Regions from separate parts of the Homo sapiens genome. Here regions 1, 2 and 4 are each linked to region 3. Evidence: fine-mapped expression QTL. A gene starts in region 3. Each other region holds a variant in brackets. All regions are shown on one strand. Distances are between the middles of the regions. Region 1 has its middle 8.6 kb from the start of NAA40. Region 2 overlaps MARK2 (microtubule affinity regulating kinase 2). Region 3 holds the start of MARK2 (microtubule affinity regulating kinase 2). Region 4 overlaps MARK2 (microtubule affinity regulating kinase 2).

Region 1 (5,143 bases), 92 kb before region 3:
GTGCCTATAGTCCCAGCTACTCAGGAGGCTGAAGCAGGAGAATCGCTTGAACCCAAAAGGCAGAGGTTGCAGTGGGCCAAGATTGAGCCACTGCACTCCAGCCTGGGCAATAGAGGGAGACTCCATCTCAAAAAAAAAAAAAAAAAAGGGTGAAACCCCGTCTCTACTAAAAATACAAAAATTAGCCCGGCCTGGTGGCGGGCGCCTGTAATCCCGGCTACTCAGGAGGCTGAGGCAGAGAATTGCTTGAACCTGGGAGACAGAGGTTGCAGTGAGCAGAGATCGCACCACCGCACTCCAGCCTGGGCAACAAAGCGAGACTCCATCTAAAAAAAAAAAAAAATTAGCCAGACGTAGTGACGCACACCTGTAGTCCCAGCTACCTGGGAGGCTGAGGCAGGAGAATCGCTTGAACCCTACAGGCGGAGGTTGCAGTGAGCCGATATTGCACCACCGCACTCCAGCCTGGGCAATAGAGCAAGACTCTATCTCAAAAAAAAAAAAAAAGTATGTGTCCCCTTCTCCCCTCCCTGGCATCGCATCCCTCCCGCCGCACCCACATTGACCAGGCTTTCTACGCTGCCTCATTTACCCTTCTCTCCAACCCCCACGCAGGGGGCTGAAGCACCCCTTCTCCACACTCGGCTCCGACCTCTCCGGCAAGGGACTCTGTCTCCCTCATCTCTCCGAGGCCCCTGGACTCCCTGGCTCCTCCCTCCTCCGCTGCCTCTTCCTCCCTATGCCTCAGACACAGCCACTCCCAATCTCCAGGCTTTGCCCTCTTCTCCCTCTATGGCCCGCAGCCGCTCCCAAGTATTCATTCACTCCTTCATTCAGCCAAGGCACGGGGGCCGCCATGTGCTCCGCTTTGCCTTCTGTGCGGAGGAACAGCTTGGGAGACAGCTCCTGCCAGAGAAGGAGAGCACGTTTGGGGAGGGCAGTCATCGCACTGTGTGATGAGTGGGCAGCTGAGAGTCCCCGGACTTCCCCAGAAGAATCTGAATTTACACTTCTCCTCCTGCCACCCAAGGCCAGGTCCACCTAGAGTGTCAAACGCTAAGGCCCCTCAGGGTCCCTCCCGGCTGTGAACCTCTTTCCCCAGGCCTCCTTCGCTTGTGCTCCTTCCTGGCTCCTGCCCGCCCTAGGGGGCCTCTCTTCCCTACTCAAAAGCTTGTGGAGGCCAGGGGTGGTGGCTTACGCCTATAATCCCAGCACTTTAGGAGGCTGAGGCAGGTGATCACTTGAGGTCAGGAGTTTGAGACCACCTGGCCAACACGGCAAAACCCCACCTCTACCAAAAATACAAAAAAAATTAGCCAGGAGTGGTGACGCACACTTGTAATCCCAGCTACTCAGGAGGCTGAGGCAGGAGAATCACTTGAACCCAGGAGGCGGAGGTTGCAGTGAGCCGAGATCTCGCCACTGCACTGCAGCCTGGGTGACAAAAACAACAACAACAAACAAACACACACACACACACAAAAAGCTTGTAGAGGCAACAGCCTACCCTGTGTCTCCTTCCTTAGCTTCTCATTCCTCTCACTCCTCAACCCCTGCAGCTTGGCTGCTGTCCCCTGCAACCTACGCCTCCCTCCTGGTGCCTCCAGCAGTTTTGCTAACTCCAACTGTGCTTCCCTGTCTCAGCCTCATCTTTCCGGCCCTTCCTGCAACATGTAGCTCTGTTATTCCCTCCCTCTTCCTTGAAACACTGTTCTTCCCTTGGCTCCTGTGACACCACACGCCCCTGTTTTTCTAAAACCCACATCTGGTTGGTCAGTTAAAGGCCTTCTGCGGCTCTAAACTCTGTATGGTTGTTCCACCCCTGCCCGCTTGGCCAGGGCCGCTGCTCCATGTGGCATCCTGTGCTCCCTGCAGTGGGTGACTGTGCCTTTCTGCTGTTAGGGTTGCCAGATTCCATAAGTGGGACAAACTGAAACTCACTGTTTATCTGAAATTTATTTTCTGTTTTATTTATTTATTTTTTAGACAGGGTCTCGCTCTGTAGCACTCTGCTGGAGTGCAGTGCAGTGGCACGATCTCGACTCACTGCAACCTCTGCCTCCTGGGTTTAAGTGATTCTCCTGCCTCAGCCTCCCAAGTAGGTAGGATTACAGCTGCGCACCACCACGCCCGACTACCATTTATCTGAAATTTAAATTTAACTGGCCAGGCACAGTGGCTCACGCCTGTAATCCCAGCACTTTGGGAGGCTGAGGCACGTGGATCACATGAGGTCAAGAGTTTAAGACCAGCCTGGCCAACATGGTGAAACCCTGTCTCTACTAAAAATACAAAAATTAGCCGGGCGTGGTGGTGGGCATCTATAATCCCAGCTACTCAGGAGGATGAGGCAGGAGAATCGCTTGAACCTGGGAGGAAAAAAAAAATAAAATAATAAAATAAAATAATTTGAGAGAGAGTCTTGTTCTGTCTCCAGGCTGGAGTGCAGTGGCACCATCCTGGCCCACTGCAACCTCCCCCTGCCAAGTTCAAGCTATTCTCCTGCCTCAGCCTCCCGAGTAGCTGGGATTACAGGCGTGCACCACCACACCTGGCTAATTTTTGTATTTTTAGTAGAGACAAGGTTTCACCATGTTGGTCAGGCTGGTCTCAAACTCCTGATCTTAAGTGATGCCCTCGCCTTGGCCTCCCAAAGTGCTGGGATTACAGGCATGAGCCACCATGCCCAGCCGTCTTGTATTTTTATGTGCTAAATTTGGCACCAGCTTGGTGCCTGGTGTAAAGCACACACTCAGTAAATGTTAGCTGAAGGAATATGGGCAGTGATGGCGGCAGGCACAGGTGCTGTAGGGCACAAAAGAAGCAAGGTCCCTAGAGGAGGTAACACCTGAGCCCTGCAGATGGAACTATTAGGTCATACACCAACAGCCCCTCCATGGAGATATCTCCCACAGTGGGTTGAATAGAATCCCCCCAGATTATATGTTCAAGTCCTAACCATCCCCCTACCCTGTATCTGTGAATGTGACCTTAATTGGAAATAGAGTCTTGCAGATGTAATTAAGTTAAAGCT[C/T]TTGGGATGAGATCATCCTGGATTTAGGGTGGGCCCTAAATCCAATGACTGGTGTCCTTAGAAGAGAAAGCAGAGGGAGATTTGAGATACAGCAGGAAGACAGCCATGTGAAGCCGGAGCCGGAGACTGGAACGAGGCAACTAGGAGTCAAGGACTGCCAAGGAGAGAGGCACGCAGTGGGTTTTCCCTCAGAGCCTAGAAAAGGAACCAGCTCTGCCAACACCTTGATTTTGAGCTTCTGGGAGAACTGGGACAAAACGAATTGCTGTTGTTTTAAGCCATCTGGTTTGTGATACTTCATTAGGGCAGCCCGGGAAAACTAACACACTCCCAAGGCTCCATGTTTCCCAAAATCTCTGTTTCTTCTTTCAGGACCTCCACCCCCAGAACCCTCTCTAGTACCAGACCTCTTATCCGGCCTGTGTAGCCAGCCACCAACATGGCCCCAGTAATCTTTTGTTGTAGTAGTTGTTATTTTTTTAAGACAGAATCTCGCCCTGTTGCCCAGGCTGGAGTGCAATGGGGCGATCTCGGCTCATTGCAACTTCCGCCTCCTGGATTCAAGTGATTCTCCTGCCTCAGCCTCTCAAGTAGCTGGGATTACAGGCATGTGCCACCATGCCCAGCTAATTTTTTTTGTATTTGTAGTAGAGACGGGGTTTCACCATGTTGGCTAGGCTGATTTCGAATGCCTGATCTGAGGTGATCCACCCACCTCAGCCTCCCAAAGTACTGGGATTACAAGCATGAGCCACCGCACCCGGCCTCTGTTTTTTTTTTTTTTTTTTTTTTGAGACAGAGTCTTGCTCTGTCGCCAGGCTGGAGTGCAGTGGTGCCATCTCGGCTCAATGCAACCTCCACCTCCTGGGTTCAGACAATTCTTCTGCCTCAGTCTCCCAAGTAGCTGGGACTACAGGCGCCCGCCACCATGCCCGGCTATTTTTTGTATTTTTAGTAGAGGCGGAGTTTCACCATGTTGGCCAGGCTGGCTTCGAACTCCTGACCTCATGATCCGCCCACCTTGGCCTCCCAAAGTGCTGGGATTACAGGTGTGAGCCACCGCGCCCGGCGCCTCTGTTCTTTATAACCCAGTCTCAGATGTTCTGTTACAGCAGCACAATGGACTAAGACAACGGCAGAACCCCGCCTTTGCTCGGGTGATGGGTAGGGGTCATGGCAGGTGTGCTGGAGTACAAGCACCATGGGTCTAATCCAAGCCTAGGAATCCTGTTCTCCTTTGAGGGATTGGTTTAAGGGACTTGGGGCTGTTCTGGGATTCCTGGGAAGGGTTGTTCTTCCTGATAGATAACAAGACAAATGCCAAGGAGAGAGTCCGTGCTCCCTGCCCCTCCTCTCCCACTCTGGAAATTGTCCTCAGAGGATGGGATGCTTGGAGCAGCTGCAGCCATCTAGTGATCATGAGGAGAAATCTGATACGTGGAAGGGACAATGCTGAGAAAGGAGAAGCACCTGAGACCTCGATGACCACTGAGCCTCTGTCAGTGGTGACACTGACCTCCTGACTCCTTAGGAAAGGTAAAATGCCTGCTTTGCCCAAGTCATCACTGAGTGGCTGTTCCTCTACTTGCAGCCACATGCATCTTAACTGAAAGGGAGGGGACACAAGATTTTGAAAATATGTCTCTGGTATCACCCAGCTTGGGACTGGCTCTCAGCTCTGCCACCATCAAGCTGTGTGATCTTAGGCAGGTGACCTGAAGCCTCAGCCTTTCGTCTGGAAAATAGGGCTGCTATGGGGGAAAAATGGGATAACCCAGGTAAGGCATTTTGCACATGGTGGTTGGTATATATATGCATTCATTTCATTTGTTTATTCCTCCACTAATTTATTTAACAATGGTATTTAAACACCTACTATATACTTGCACTAATAGGGTTTGGGAATGTAGTTGTGAAAAACTAACTAATAAGCACTTGAAATTGGCTCTTACTTCTACTATTATTACAAGACTTTGCCTTCAAGGAGCAGGTCCTGATATGTTGGTAAAATCAAGATAGGTTTGGCAGAAGTGATCTTCTTGGACCTACCAGTGTGGGTATCTGTAGTGAGAGGGGCTGGGGGCAGTTAGGGAGGGGAGGAGCAGTTAG
Region 2 (5,143 bases), 43 kb before region 3:
GATACTAGCTGTACCCATTTCACAGAATTAGAGTGAAGATTAAATGAGAAAATCTGGCCGGGCGTGGTGGCTTACACCTCTGATTCCAGCACTTTGGGAGGCCAAGACAGGCAGATCCCTTGAGCCTAGGAACTCGAGGCCAGCCTGGGCAACATGGCAAAACACAGGCTCTACAAAAAAACACAAAAATTAGCCGGGGTGTGGTGACAAGTGCCTGCAATCCCAGCTACTTGGGAGGCTGAGGTGGAAGGATCACCTGAGCCCAGGGAGGTAGGCTGAGGCTGCAGTGAGCCGTGATCACACTGCTGCACTCCAGCCTGGGTGACAGAGTAAGACCCTGTCTCAAAGGAAAAAAAAAAGGAAAATCCATGTCAGTGTTTACCATAGAACGTGGTGTTCAGTAATGTCTTGATGATGTATTCTATTATTATCTAGCTTCATTTTTGGGTAGGAACCATTGTTTCCCCTCTCCAAGGGTTCTCTGGGCTCTGGGAAGAGCTACAATACCTAGAAATTTGACTGTAAGTACCAGTATAGCTAAGTTGATTCCTGTCATCCTGGTATTCCCTCTATAACAAGGAAAAGTCAAATTCTGCCATGGCTGGGCAATCAGGCAAAGAGGACCCTCTTTCCTAACATAAAACCATCCTGCAGGAGGAGTAGCTGAATGACATGGTGCCCATGCCTTCGCCCTCTGTGTGGCCCAGAGGATGACGACAGTGGTCCTGCCAGGGTTCTTCCCTTCTTCATCAGTTCCTTAACTCCCTCCTCCCAGAAAAGGTCCATGAAACAGCCGACATACCAGTACCACATGGTGCCAAGGGCTGAGGGAAGCTCACACTGCCAGCCTCGCACTTTATGCGGTTCCTCCCATACCAGTGGGTTACCGTAACCATGGAGACCAACAAGTTCCTCCATATCACAGGAGAGCCAGCCTGCCAGTAGCCCAGGGCTCTGGGGGATGGGGGTGGTGGGGGTAGGCAGAAGGAAGCCTGCAGCATAGAGGTCTGGCTCACTTTACAGAGGACTGTGGGGAGGCAGCAGATCCTAACCAGTGCAGCTGAGGTGGCTGGGCTTCCTCCTAACCTCGTTTTCTTTGCCTAGTATATATGTTCTTGGCATATTTTCTGGGCTCTCTAGACACTGGGCTTTTCTTCCTAGCTCCACTGCTGTATACTGGGGCACCATATATGGTATAGTAGTGAAGGGTGTCATTCTGGAGTTAGACTGTAGTGATAACCCAGCTCCACTACTCTGTACATGCACATATACAAAAAAATGGAACAATAAAGAGAAGATTAGCATGGCCCCTGTGCAAGGATGACACACAAATTTGTGAAGCATTCCTTTTTTTTTTGAGACAGAGTTTCGCTCCTGTTGCCCAGGCTGGAATGCAATGGCGTGATCTCGGCTCACTGCAACCTCCGCCTCCCGGGTTTCAAGTGATTCTCCTGCCTCAGCCTCCCAAGTAACTGGGATTACAGGTATGCGCCACCATGCCCGGCTAATTTTGTATTTTTAGTAGAGACAGGGTTTCTCCACGTTGGTCAGGCTAGTCTCGAACTCCTGATCTCAGGTGATCCGCCCAGCTCGGCCTCCCAAAGTGCTGGGATTACAGGTGTGAGCCACTAAGCCTGGCCCATATTTTTTAAAAGATTAAAACTTTTATTATTTCAGGCTGGGCATGGTGGCTCAGAGCAAGACTGTCTCAAAAAAAAAATTATTATTTTGAATAAATAAATAAAAATAATAAGAAAAAAGAATGGGTCAGAATTGTGGTACAAAGAGCTACCCAGATCTACACATACTAAAAGGAAAGTGGTCATCTATCCTATGCGCCTTCCTGTGATCCAGGTAAGTCCTCTTATCCGTTGTTTATCTCAAATCCAGACACCGTCTTAGCGGGGAGTGGTCACTCACTTCTCTAGACTCACTTCTCTAGACTCTCAGCGCTCTATCTGTACTCTTCATTTCTTCTTCTTTTGTGAGATGAAGTCTTGCTCTCTTGCCCAGGCTGGACTGCAATGGCACAATCACAGCTCACTGCATCCTCAAACTCCTGGGTTCAAGGGATTCTCCTGCTTCAGCCTCTCGAATAGTTGGGACTACAGGTGTGTGCCACTATGCCTGGCTAGTTTTTTATTTATTTCATTTTTTTTGTAGAGATGGCATCTTGCCATCTTGCCCAGGCTGGCCTCAAACTCCTAGGCTCAAGCAATCTTCCTGCCTCAGCCTCCCAAAGTGCTGGGATTACAGGCGTGAGCCACCACACCCAGCCCCATTGATTTCTTGTTTGTGTCCCCATACCTTAACCCCCTCATGCTCTGACAGATGAGAGCCAGTATCTCCCTCACCTTCATATACCCTCAGTGCCCAACAGTGCCCACACCTAGCTGACCCATGTTACAATACTTAGGGAACAAGAGAGGCACAACTTTTTGATCTTT[A/G]AAGTTGCCCACTCTCGACCCCACTCTCGACCCCAAGAGATAAGGGTAGAGGAAGGAAGATCACAATTTCTTGCTACCAGCCCCATTTCCCCTCTTTCGAGGCATTCGTTGCCCTTGAAGTTGGTTGGTTACTATCTGTCCTTCCTGCTAGACTACACTACAAAAGGAGGGACCTTGGTATTTTTTTTTGAGACAGAGTTTCTCTCTGGCCATCCAGGCTGGAGTGCAGTGGCGTGATCTCGGCTGACTGCAACCTCTGCCTCCCGAGTTCAAGCGATTCTCCTGCCTCAGCCTCCCAAGTAGCTGGGATTACAGGTGCCCACCACCATGCCTGGCTAATTTGTTTTTTTTTTTTAGTAGACGGGATTTCACCATGTTGGCCAGGCTGGTCTCGAACTCCTGACCTCAGGTGATCTGCCTGCCTTGGCCTCCCAAAGTGCTGGGATTACAGGCGTGAGCCACTGCACCAGGCCAGGTCTGTCTTATTCATGGCCCAGAACAATGCCCAGCACAGTATTCAGTAAAGTACTGAATTAATAAATGTGCACAAATGAATACATAAGAAAACATTTTGCGATGTCTTCATGACGGTCTCTGGGACCAACTGATAACTGATAGCCCACTTCAGTGTACTCTGCAAAAAATACCCATGAGGGTAATGAGCCACGAGATCCCCTATCCCAGTGATGGATGAAAAGTGAGTGATCACCAAGGTGAGCTGGAGACAGACTCAGAATATAGGCACAGCCAGGGACCAGCAGGGCCCATCCCACTTGCTCCCCTGAATCAAGCCCTAGCCTTCCTTTCATCGGAGGGAAAACCCTCTCCTTCACACTTCCTGCTGCCCATGACAACCACCAGGTCCTCAGACTTAATACAGTTCTCTCTGCCTCTCTACATTTAGTTTCTCTACTGCTTTGCTATCAAAACCATTGTGTCTTGCTGTGACAATGAATGCAACTCGAGCCATTCTAAGAGCTACCAATTGGGGACGGACAGTGACTTGTATAAGAATCTAGGAGACAATTATTTATTGTTTGCCACACTAAGAGTTCTGCTTTGATATTTGTTACTTGAACCAATGTACTGACTCTAAGGCCCGGTTAACTCTAGGGTGTCAAAATAATTTCACCCATACACACCTGCCTCCTGTCCTGCTGCAAAAATCAGCATTCCCACCCTGCCCCCAACCCCTCCCCAAACTGCCTCCTGTTACAGAAAAGCAAAAGAACTAAAAACGGCAGCTGGGGAGCTCAGTTGACTCACCCAGCATAATCATCTCCTCCCAGAATCTCCCATCTTCTCCTGGGGTTTTTGCCAACACAAAGTAAAAAAGAAGCATGAGATCTTAAAAAAAAAAACAAAAAAAAAACTCAGCATTTATGCAACAGTCTTTCTACCTGGGTACAGATTTAACCCTTTGTTTCTGCCCTTTCCAATGTTGTTTCCTTAAAACTTGCTTGTATGCTGAGGATAAGATCCAGCCTGGAGCTGGGAAACAGGCCTTCTAGACCCCCTAGTCCCAGCATTGCTGCTGGAAAGTGCAGAACAAGACATATGCCTCTTCCTGCTGCATCTTTCTCTGGAAGTGAACAAATACTGCCTCCCTACTCCTCCAGTTTCAAAGAGGGAGTTGAATAAGGAGGAGGAAATGTCAGAAAAAAATACTGGGACAAAGTTTGTTGCTCCAGAAGTCACCATGGCCAGAGGTCAGAGCACATCAGAAACCACCCCAAGGCTGTCACTGCCACCCTCACCTCAGAACTGTCTCCCTGTTGGGCCAGGCTGCAAAGTGGCTACTCCACTTAAGTGACCACTAAAAATCCAACTGGCCAATCTTTCTAGAAGCAAGCCCTTACTGGGCTGCTCCTGCTGAAGGGAGAGGTGCTATCTTTCTCCTGTAGCAGATCATTAAAAAACCAAGCAGGAGAGGGCACCTAAGTTGTGGAATGAGGGCATCCTGTTTCAGGTGCTACTGGACTATGGATCAAATCAGCTGACATGGAGAACCCAGACAAACCTGCCCCTCAAGGCAATCACAGAAGACAAGGGTAGCTCTCTAGCAACCTTTCTGGGTGGGAAGAGGAGGGTGCTTCTTTTCTGTCATTTGGCATATAGGAGGACAACTTACTTGTGTGATAGATAGTGCCATGACCACAAAATGTGATTTTTTAAATGTTTTTTTTTTGAGACAGAGTCTCACTCTATCGCCCAGGCTGGAGTGCAGTGGTGTCATCTCAGCTCACTGCAACCTCTACCTCCTGGGTTCAAGTGATTCTCCTGCCTCAGCCTCCAGAGTAGCTGGGAGTACAGGCGCTCACCACCAGGCCCAGATTATTTTTTTGTATTTTTAGTAGAGATGGGGTTTTACCATGTTGGCCAGGCTGGTCTCAAACTCCTGTCCTCAAGTGATCTGCCTGCCTCGGCCTCCCAAAGTGCTGGGATTACAGGCGTGAGTCACCGTGCCCAGCTGAATACAAAATAAAGAGACACTTCCACAGGCAAATGCAAATCTGTTGCAGCATATTAGTCAAGAAATCCCCAAGTTACCAAAAGTTCTGTTCTAAGAAGGAACTCTTTTTCCATAGAAACATGTTACAAATGGTAGCTGTGTTCTCAGGCCAGCCCATGAGGTCCCAGCATAGTATTTCAAGGGGTACGTGAATTGTACTTAAGACTTAAACCATAGCCCAGAA
Region 3 (5,143 bases):
CCCCTATTTCACCCCCAGAAGCAAATAATCCACAAGTAATAAAAGGGTCAACCCTGCAGAGAAAAACTCTGCCTAGAACTTCTCTTTAGTTCCTAACTGCCCAGGTGACAGAGGGCCAGGGGGTAACAAAATAGAAAAACACAGTAAAAGAAAGGAGGTAAGATTTTTCAAAGAAGAATGTTCACATGCAAGAGAATACAACAACTGCTCTACCGGGCTACAAAGAAAGAAGGGAGTAAGAGGGAAACATAAAGGATGGAAGGAGGGGAAAGAAGGCAAAAAGCACAGCAGCCCCGGGGCAGAAGCACTTCTTTTTCAAGTCAAGTTTTTTTGGCCTAGTAAAGTTCTCCACCAAGAAAGGTATGACAGGCAGGGGACTCTGCACAGAGCAGTCAGCAAAGGACGCTAGAGATGGTGAAAGAAAGGGGAGGTGTGGAAAGTGGACGTCTCTGGGATCAAAAGTGAGATGACACAGAAAGGCTAAGACTTGGGTGAAAAACATAGCAGTGACTGCCAGGATGAGGGGGACCGTGTAGAGTCGTGAGGCTGAGGTGTAGCTCAAGAAACTAGCATGCAAAACACCTGGACTTCCTGGGCATTACAGAGACTTAGCCAATAGGAACAGAATGGATCCAAGCACGGTGTGGGGATACACAGGACATGAAGAAGGCAGGAGACTAATGCGGAGATGAAAGGCAACGCTGATTAAAAGGCACAGTAAGGAAGATGGGGTGAGGGTGGAGAAACAGGAAGGCAACAAGCAAGAAAGAAAATACTCTAAGTGCCAGGCACGGGAGTGAAGACACAGAAAGTCATCATGGTTTGTGTTCCAGCGTACGAAGACAGAAAGGCAAAAACTGTGATGCAGCGAGGTCTGGGAAAGGACTGAGCAACAGGTTGTGTTAATACGGTGGGGCCAAGTGTCTTTGGGTTGGGAGAAAGAGCCCAGTAGAAGGCTGGTAGAACACTCACAGAGAGAAACAAGAGGCCCAGGGACCTAAAAGCCAAACCCGAGGGGAAGAGAACAAGAGGGATCCAAAGACTCTGAAGGGAGTGATGATTGGAACCCCAAACGCAACCTGTGGGAAAACTATGCGCATGACAGCTGTGGGGAAACACGGAAGCGACAAATGCCAGCGCCAGGATCCAGGGAGCTCCTGGAGCAAAGAAGGGAAAGTGATGAGCAAAGAGTAGGCGAAGGATTTGGAAAGGTGATGAGGGTGGAGCTGGTGGGTTGCAAGCAAGAGGGAGAGCACAATTTGGAAAACGAAGAAGCAGGGTAGAAAAAGCTGGGGGAACTGCAAGGGGCCAGGGATCGAGAGCGCAGTCCAGGGCAAGGACCCTGAGGGTGATAACCCAGAGACTGGCAGAACCGGTGCGGGCGGAGGGGAAGCGAGGCAGGAGAGACGAAGGGAGAGGTGGACAACGATCTGTGGCAAATCGCGGGGTGCTGCTATTCGAGGAGCGGGAGGGTGGCTGCTTTAAGCGTGGGTGGAGGAAGACCAGAAAGGCCCCTGAGAGAAAAAGGGAAGAGAAAGGGAAGCTGGGGAGGTGACACGGAAGAGCGCAGGAGGGCGGTGAGGGGAGACGGGGGTTGGCAGAAAGACAAGTGTGCAGCTTGGAGTCAGGACGAGGTGGGTCCCAGGTCAGGACTCGGAAGCGGGATGTGCGGAGCCGGAGCCAGGAGCCGGATGACAGGGCAGCCGAGGCTTGCAGGATGGCAGCAGGGGCACGAGGAGAGCAGAAGAGGGAGGAGGCTCCGCAAGGTGCAAAGGGCCCAGCCAGAGAATTCGGGGAGCCCTCGGGGCTCCTTACCTGCTCCGTGTCCCTCTCGTTCAGCGTGGGTAGGGGGGTCCGAGCGCTGGACATGGCGCCGGTATCTCGGGGGAGGGAACCGAGAAGCTTGGAGGAAGGGAGGGAAGGGAAGGCGCGGAGCCCGGCCGGGCGGGGCTTCTCACAGCAGGAGCACCCGCCGCATGGGCCCCGGCCGGGGGTGCGGGGAGGCCGGGCAGCCGCTCACGCCAGCCCGGGGATGCGCCGCTCGGGCTAGGCCGCGCCGGCTCCGAGCGGCTCCGGACCGCACCCCCCCGACCCCCGGCTGGGCTGTGCCGCCTTTCGGCCGGGCCGCGCCGCTCCGCCTACTCTCTGCCGCCGCAGCCGGCCGCCTGCCTCGCTCCTCCCCTGCCCTCAGCGGCACTGCTCCGCGCCCGGCACACAGGCAGCCGCCGCCGGACCTGCTGCTCCCAACATGGCCGCCACCACCGCCGGCCCTCGGCTCTTTTCGCCGGCAGCAGCCGGAAACATCCGAAGCGGCTAGAAACGGGAGGTGGGGCGCGCCTTCTCCTCCCGGCCACAGACTACGGGTGAATTCCGGAAACAGCCGAAGAAGGTAAACCCCGGGGACGCGCTCTCCTCCTCGATTCCGAAGACGAAGCTTCGGCTCTGTTTACGGAAATCCACGAAGCGACCCCGGGTGCCTACCCCCCGCCCCCGTCCACGGCCATCCAGCCACGCCCACCGGCCTTTCCCCGCCCACTTCAAGGGGGCTTTCGGCAGTTTCCGGAAATACCCGAAGCTGCTCCGCGTGCTGAGCCGGCCACGCCCCCTCCCACAGCCCTGCCGAGGGCGGTCGTCGGCCATTTCCGGCAACACCCGAGGCCCTCCGAGCACCCGGTCGTTTCCCCGGGTGGCTCTCGGAGTCTGATTCGCTTCGTGTCTTTCCGTCAGTTTTCGGGCATTTTCAAACCTTGAACAGGAAGCGTGGGTCACCTGTCTGTGCTTGTGATTTGACTAAATACAAAACAAGATTGTTAGCCGTCCCTGTGATTGGCATCCTCTGGTTCTATAGCAGCTTCCTGTCTGCATTTCTGTCCATCTGTCGGTCAGCTCATAAAATTCATCTTCTTTTTATCATCTAGCCTATCAATATACCTGTCAAATGCAGCATCAGTCTATTGCCTGTCTGCCACCGTCTATCTTGGCTTCTGTGGATTCATCCGTGCATTCCCGCATCTAGTCCGCAGGGCTCGGCAAGGCCCCAGGCAGGCCCAGGGCAGCGTCCTCTGCACCGGATGCGGGAGCGTCCAGGGCCCTGCATTTCAGCCCCAGCTCTGCCAAGTGCCAATGCTGCGTGATCTTGGAAAAATCACATAACATCACTGAGTTTAGGCTCCTCTTTCCTTTGCCTTTGCTCCTGCGTTGACATTCAAAATGACATTTCTGAATTCCAGTTACCTTTTAAAATGCCTCTGCAAGATAAGGCATTTAAAGTTTCTTTTCTTTCCTCCTCTGGGCCTCATTTTCCCCATCAGTAAAGTGAAGCCATTGGATTCATGAACTCGGAGGTCCTTCTCAGCTTTGGAGAGCCCTTGACTAACAGGAAGTCTGTATGGCAACTGCAGTCCATTCCTCACTTCCCCTTACACTGCGTTACCAAGGACAGGGAGTATCCTGGGCTGATTTCCCCAGCGCCAAGCTGTCCTCACCCATAGTACCTGGAACACGTTGGAACCACACCCTCCCATCAGTGGCTTAAGGTGGGCAGGAGGCAGAGGCCCCGCAGGAGTCAGAAACCAGACTCAGGCAACAGGTTCCCAAAGGTACAGGAGCAGAGAGGCTCCAGGAGTTATTGGGAAAACTGCTGATTGGACCCCTGCTACTTGACCTCCAACTCCCAGCTACAGCATCTTGAGCCAGCCTTCATCCCATCAATCAGAGAAATAGGCATCTGAGCAGATGTAATTACCAGGGTATGAAAGTACTTCCTAAGGCAACAGGTATCACTACACTCTTAGTAAATCCTGGGACTTCAGCACTGCTCCCCATGCCCCATACCAGCTCTATTCAGGCACCCAACCGTTGAGGAAGAAGGTGAAGGCACACCCATGAAGGTGAGGGAAAGAGAGAAGAGGAGGACAGAGAACACCTCACTCCCCAACCCAAATTCGATCCTTGAGAATCATCTGCCCTCTGGTGGCCAAAGGGAGACACGTTGCTGATTCCTGTGCCTGGTATCACCTCTAATGCCAGGGTCTGGAAAGCAGGGAAAAGAGAGAGGAAGCAGTTGGTGGTTGGTGTTCCAGCAGTCTCTCCCTGGTCCACACTCTCGTCTAAATAGACTCCATCTTCTCCAAGCTTCTCACTCTAGCTCTAACCCCTGCCTCACCCCTGCCCTTTGACCTTCATCCCCAACCCCTACCCTACCTATCCTTTCTCTTCCTTGCTAGCTTTGCACAAGGCTGCTGAGCTTGTCTCCCCGCCTAGACTCCCTCCAACCTACTGCACCAGACATGTCAGAATAATCTTCCCAAAGTCCAGCTCCAATAACATCTCTGCTCTGCTAGAAAGCTATCACCAGCTCCCTCACTGGTTATAGGCAGGGCTGGCTTCTTGGGCCCACGACCCCATGCAGTCACACAGAGCCCTGTGCTCAGGTGGACCCTGAGCTTGGATTAATGCTCTGCTGTCACCATCTTGAAATTTTTTTTTTTAAGACTGAATCTCGCTCTATCTCCCAGGCTGGAGTGCAGTGGTGCGATCTCAGCTCACTGCAACCTCCACCTCCCAGGTTCAAGTGATTCTCATGCCTCAGCCTCCTGAATAGCTGGGATTATAGGTGCCCACCACCACACCCGGCTAATTTTTTGTGTTTTTAGTAAAGACAGGGTTTCACCATGTTGGCCAGTTTGGTCTAGAACTCCCAACCTCAAGTGATCCACCTGCCTCGGCCTCCCAAAGTGCTGGGATTACAGGCGTGAGCCACCACGCCCGGCCCATTATCTTGAAATTTTTGACCAAGGGGGCCATGCATTTCCATTTTGCACTGTGCCCCACAAATTATGTAGCTGGTCCTGGCTGTAGGAAAAGCCTTTAGCCTGCATTTAAAACTTTGCTCAATCTGGCCTCACATTGCCTTACAATAACCTCTCCAACTATCACTGATCACACTTCTCCCTAACTCCTACCCCGCTGCCAGTCTCTCTCACTTCCATGCCTTTGGTCAAGCTGATAGATGATTGCCCATCATCCACCTCAGCTTCCAGAACCACTTCAAGATCCAGTTCAAATCTCACCTACTCAAATCCATGAACCCTCCTAGTTCTCCTCAAAGATGAATTATTGCCACACATTTACCCCCTCTCTA
Region 4 (5,125 bases), 72 kb before region 3:
GACCATCCTGGCCAACATAGTGAAACCTGTCTCTACTAAAAATACAAAAATTAGCTGGGCGTGGTGGCACACACCTGTAATCCCAGCTACTCGGGAGGCTGAGACAGGAGAGTCTCTTGAACTTGGGAGGCGGAGGTTGCAGTGAGCTGAGATTGCACCACTGCACTCCAGCCTGGGCGACAGAGTGAGATTCCGTCTCAAAAAAAAATAGGCCGAGCACGGTGGCTCATACCTGTAATCCCAGCACTTTGGGAGGCTGAGGTGGGTGGATCACCTGAGGTCGGGAGTTCGAGACCAGCCTGACCAACATGGAGAAACCCTGTCTCTACTAAAAAAAAATACAAAATTAGCCAGGTGTGGTAGCAGGCGCTTGTAATCCCAGCTACTCAGGAGGCTGAGGCAGGAGAATCGCTTGAACCCGGGAGGCAGAGGTTTTGGTGAGCTGAGATTGCGCCATTGCACTCCAACCTGGGTAACAAGAATAAAACTCCTTCTCAAAAAAAAAAAAAAAAAAATATATATATATATATATATATAAAAAATAAAAATATAAACTGGTCTGCAGAAAGGGGAGAACCCCAGCGGCTCCCCTACTGAGTAGTTGTTTAGGAGGAACAAGCCAGATGGTGGATGGCAGAAAGCTTTGCCGGGGCAGTGGTGCTGGTGTCTGTGCAGAAGTAGGGTCCTGTGAGGGGCATAGTGGCCTGCCTGAGATGGGAGTCTGATATTCCTCCACTTCCTGGCCTTCCCAGGTACAGAGCATGAAGCAGACGAACAGCAGCCTGCGCCAAGCCCTGGAGGGCGGTATTGATCCACTACGCCCCCCGGAGGTATGGCTGCTCTTTAAGTTAGGGTGCAAAGGGGGGTTTCTCTCTGGAGGCAGAGCAGAAAGAGTACTGCTTGGGGAGCAGGGCTTCCATTTGCATGGTTTTGAGTCTAAAGGATATGTTGTTCCTTGCTTTCCAGGCCAACACCAAGTTCAACTCCCGCTGGACCACAGATGAGCAGCTTTTGGCTGTTCAAGGTGGGTTAAACTGTGGTGAGAAGAGAGGACCCCAGGAATCTATCTCCCCACCCTCCAAGGAGTGGGGGGGCAGAGGGGAAGGGTCAGGGAAGTAACTAGTTCGAAGGGGTATTGACGCTGCTGCCCTTTTGACCCTTGCAGCCATCCGTAGGTATGGCAAAGACTTTGGGGCTATTGCAGAGGTGATTGGGAACAAGACTCTGACCCAGGTGAAGACTTTCTTTGTGAGCTACCGGCGCCGCTTCAATCTGGAGGAGGTGCTGCAGGAATGGGAGGCTGAGCAGGATGGGGCCCCTGGAGCCCCAGTCCCCATGGAGGAGGCTAGGAGAGGGGCTCCATTGCCAGCCCCAGCCCTAGAGGAAGATGATGAGGTGAGAAGGGGGTGAGAGAAACCCCTCAGAGAGGAGAGGCGAGGCGAGGTGAGGCGCCGCCTTGGTCCTTAGACTGGGCTGAGGGCGGGAAGAGCCTGGCTTCTCACTCTTTCCTCTCCCCTCAGGTCCAGATTACATCGGTCTCCACGTCCGTGCCCCGATCAGTGCCCCCTGCGCCACCACCCCCTCCACCTCCCACCTCGCTGTCCCAGCCACCCCCGCTGCTGAGGCCACCTTTGCCCACGGCTCCCACTCTGCTCCGACAGCCACCCCCACTGCAGCAGGGCCGCTTCCTCCAGCCCCGGCTGGCCCCCAACCAGCCCCCACCGCCTCTCATCCGCCCCGCTCTGGCTGCCCCCCGCCACAGCGCCCGCCCTGGCCCTCAGCCCCCACCCACCCTGATTGGAACCCCTCTGGAGCCCCCAGCACCCTCACTCTGAGCCCTGACGTCCTCCACCAACCACGGGCTCCAGGACCCCTTTGCTGGCCATCCCCAGGCATCTCTGGTGTCACTGAGGACAGAAGGGACTAGGGCTCTGGCGGGGTCTTTGTAAGACCAGAGTTTCGGACAGCCCAGCCCCGCCCTTTGGGTTCTGCATGTGTTCCTGGCAGCTGGGCCTGTCTCCTGGGGCCATGGCCGGGCTCAGGGGCCTTTGAGCTGGCCTGAGGGCACTTTCGCTTCCTGGCCGGTACTGGAATGGCTGTGTCCTAGTCTGCTGGGGCTTGGCCTCTGGGTCCTGCCCTTTGTGTGTCCGGGGTAGTGACCTTAGCGTGGAGTGGGGAGAGGGCAGTTGGGTGTGCTGGCTGTTCTCATTCCTCTTTCCCTTCTTTTAGCAATAAGTCTGGGGTGAGGTGGGGAGGGAGGCTGCAGGGGGGGAGGTGGGCAGAGGGGCCTTACAGCAGCAGAGGCTGGAAGAGAAGCTCTGTCTTCAGGGGCCAGCTGGGAAATGCTAAGGAGCTGAGGGTGCCCACCAAGCCCACCTTCCAGAAACTTGGAGAAATGGGGGTTGGGAACTTATGCAGACATGGATTTATTTTTCAACATTTTTTAAAAATTAAAAAAAATAAAATCTAAGCTTACTGAGTTTTCTTTCCCTTTTGGTGCAAGGGCCCTGGGCTTTGCTTCCTGTCTGTGCCCTGTGGGTAAGTGGGGAGCTGGGCCCACCCAGCACTGGCCCCAGACAGGAATCAAGTCTCTCCTGCAAGGCAGGTGGGCTAGGCCACATCTTGCCCACAGGAGACTGGGTCCCTGCCTGGCTGGGAGAAGAAACAGGAGGAGGCAGCTCAGATTCCAAACATTCTCTTTATTACGTGTTTGATCCAGAGGAGAAACTAAGTGCAGGGTTGGGGAGGAGGGGGCTAGACGGGGAGGGGCCACCTTGCCTGGGTGCCCCGGGCCCCTACCCCCTTTGGGAGCCAAGCCATGCCCTCCCAGCCCCCTCAGAGCACCCGGGCTGTTCCATAGGGCAGGAGGGGGGAAGGGAGGGAGGGGGAGCCCTTGGTCTGAGCCGCAGTAGGAGTGTGGGGCAGGAGGGCTGAGGTTGGCAAGGCCCCTTCCTAGGACGCAAGGGCTCGGCTTAATCGCTGAGCCTGGCCTGGGAGCGGGGGTGATGAAGAGGGGTGGAGTCATCATAAATCAAAAAAAAAAAA[A/TAAA]ATAAAATAAAATAATAAAAAATAAAACCCATCACAAAAAAATGTACAACTCAGGTGAGGGTAGGGGCAGCCTCTGTGTAGGACTCCCACCCCCAATTTCTCAAGAACAGAAACAGCAGAGAAATAAATTAAGGGATGCAGTGGCCACCACCAGCCAAGCGCCCCAAACCGCCCACGCCCACACTGGCCACTGAGGGTAGCAAGCTGGGAGTCGCTTAGCCTATCTGTCCCCCACCCTGTGGAGGGCAGACGCTCCCGGCCCTGCTGCCTAACTCAGCCTTCTGCCAGGTGGCCCTCGGCAGTGTCTCCTGAGAGGAGGGGGCGACAGTGTCAGGAAGAAAAGGCAAGGCTGAGAGATGAGAGTGGTGAGGGAAGTCACTGCTATGGAGAGAGCTGGTGCCCAGATTAATGCCAATGAAGGGGAAGCCATGGGGAGAGGAAGGGCGAGGGGGCTGTGCTTTCAGACAAAGGCTCCCCCATCACAGAGTGCCCAGTGGCCCTGCTCTGGAGACCAACAGCCCAAGCGGCCCCCTGGGGACCGAGAAGCCAGTCTGCCCTCCAGTCCCCTCCCCTCTCCCAGCCCTGGGGTCAGCCCCTCCTTCTACCCGGGAGGGGTGGGAGAAGATGGCACAGACTTTGAGGGAACACACGTCCCCACAGCAGCTTGTGGAAGGAAATGCCCAGCTCTGGGGAGGAGGGGCAGAGGGTACAGTGTGGAGGGAGGCGGAGCCTTGTGCCGGCCCTCCAGCCTCAGCAGCCCCGGAGCAGCCCCCAGCCCCACCCACTGCAGGGCTGCGCAGCACCCCCGCCCCCTGCCCCACCGCCCAGGCCTCCAGCCCAGGGGCCTGAGGTCAGGGGAAGGCCACCTCTGGTGGTTTGCTTGGAGGGGAAGGAGGGAGGAGAGGGGAGAAGCCCACAGTGGGCCTGGCGGAGGGCCTGACGGGAGCTCCACCACTCTTGCCTGAGAGTGTTCCAGCCCTGAGCCACCCTCCCGGGAAACCCCACAGATCCAGTCTCGACTGTCCCAATGGGGCAGGGAGGAAAGGTGGCCGCTGGGATTTTTTTTTTCTTTTTTCTTTTTGGTAATAAAAAATTTCTTGGTTTAGGCGAAATACTCTGTGCAACCGCAGTACCGAGGGGGAGCCCTGCCCCCCCATCCACCCTCCCCTTCCTTTGCCTCCAGTAGGGGAGAGGAGAAGGGGGAATCTCTGGGCAGGGGTGAATGTGGGGTGCTGGAGAACAATCTCCCACCCCCCACAAACATGTAAGAGAAAACTGAGAAGGGCCAGGGAGGGGAGAAGTGCCAGCAGGGGAGACACACCAATCCATCGCTGCAGTCTCGCCCAGGTGGGGCGGCGCAGCGGCCGGCAGCCCGTCCAGCTGGCCCGCCCCCGCCGCCCCCGCTCCTGGCAGCCTGTTAAAGCTTCAGCTCGTTGGCTATTTTGGAGGCAATGTTTTTGAAGGCCATGGAGGTGCCCGATATCCGCTTAAATCGAACCCCGTTGAGAGAGAGCCGCGGCAGTTTGCACACCTCCATCTCCCACTGCACGAAGTCCTCGTGGCCCGGCGTGCCGTGCATGCACAGCAGCATGTACTTCTCATGCAGCTCGCTCTGGCAGCTGTTCGCGTCCAGCACCTTGCGGATCTCCCGCATCATCTCGTTGGGCTCCATGGAGCTCGTGGTCTTCATACTCCACGTGAAGCGGAGGGAGCGGGGCTTGGCCTCCCGAAATTCTTCCTTTTCTTTGTCGTTGCCGCCACTGCCCACCACGTGAGGTCTGTGGAGAGGGCAGAGGCGGGCGTCACGGGGGGGCTGAGGCACCCCACCCCAGGAGAGCCACCCTGGCAGACAGCCCCTGAGCCCAGAGAGGAGAGCGGGAGGGAGCAGGAGCAGCCAGGCGTGGCCCCTGGCCTGCGGGGGCGGAGGGTGGCAGTCCTCCAACCCCCATCTCTCAGGACAGCGAAGGGGAGGAGAAGCCAGCCTTGGGGTAGGCGGGGTGGGGTCAGGGAAGACACCAGTGCCCTCAACAGCACGAGCACAGACTCTCTCTCCAGAAAGAAGCCTCCGAGCACAGGGAGG

The links. PIP is the estimated chance that this variant, and not a neighbour inherited with it, causes the effect.
Region 1: its variant is fine-mapped to the expression of MARK2 in whole blood (TOPMed, PIP above 0.99).
Region 2: its variant is fine-mapped to the expression of MARK2 in whole blood (TOPMed, PIP above 0.99).
Region 4: its variant is fine-mapped to the expression of MARK2 in whole blood (INTERVAL, PIP above 0.99).

Annotation. Positions count from the first base shown.
Region 1 is chr11:63,927,803-63,932,945 of GRCh38, reverse strand. No RefSeq gene overlaps it. Among named protein-coding and RNA genes, the nearest start is that of NAA40, 8.6 kb to the left of the region's middle. The variant C/T (reference allele first, on the strand shown) is at 3,035.
Region 2 is chr11:63,878,799-63,883,941 of GRCh38, reverse strand. The region is part of intron 1 of MARK2 (microtubule affinity regulating kinase 2); the gene reads right to left. It also overlaps the pseudogene RNU6-1306P. Among named protein-coding and RNA genes, the nearest start is that of RCOR2, 36 kb to the left of the region's middle. The variant A/G (reference allele first, on the strand shown) is at 2,448.
Region 3 is chr11:63,836,233-63,841,375 of GRCh38, reverse strand. It overlaps MARK2 (microtubule affinity regulating kinase 2), which reads right to left and starts at 2,266. Exons shown (of 19, transcript NM_001039469.3): 1 at 1,816-2,266. The coding sequence starts at 1,869. RefSeq lists a silencer at 1,932-2,171 and enhancers at 2,182-2,331, 2,592-3,580.
Region 4 is chr11:63,908,575-63,913,699 of GRCh38, reverse strand. MARK2 (microtubule affinity regulating kinase 2) reads right to left here. Exons shown (of 19, transcript NM_001039469.3): 19 at 2,680-4,823. The coding sequence ends at 4,463. RCOR2 (REST corepressor 2) reads left to right here. Exons shown (of 12, transcript NM_173587.4): 9 at 753-830; 10 at 967-1,024; 11 at 1,166-1,395; 12 at 1,521-2,470. The coding sequence ends at 1,835. Among named protein-coding and RNA genes, the nearest start is that of RCOR2, 6.0 kb to the left of the region's middle. RefSeq lists a silencer at 3,149-3,443. The variant A/TAAA (reference allele first, on the strand shown) is at 3,046.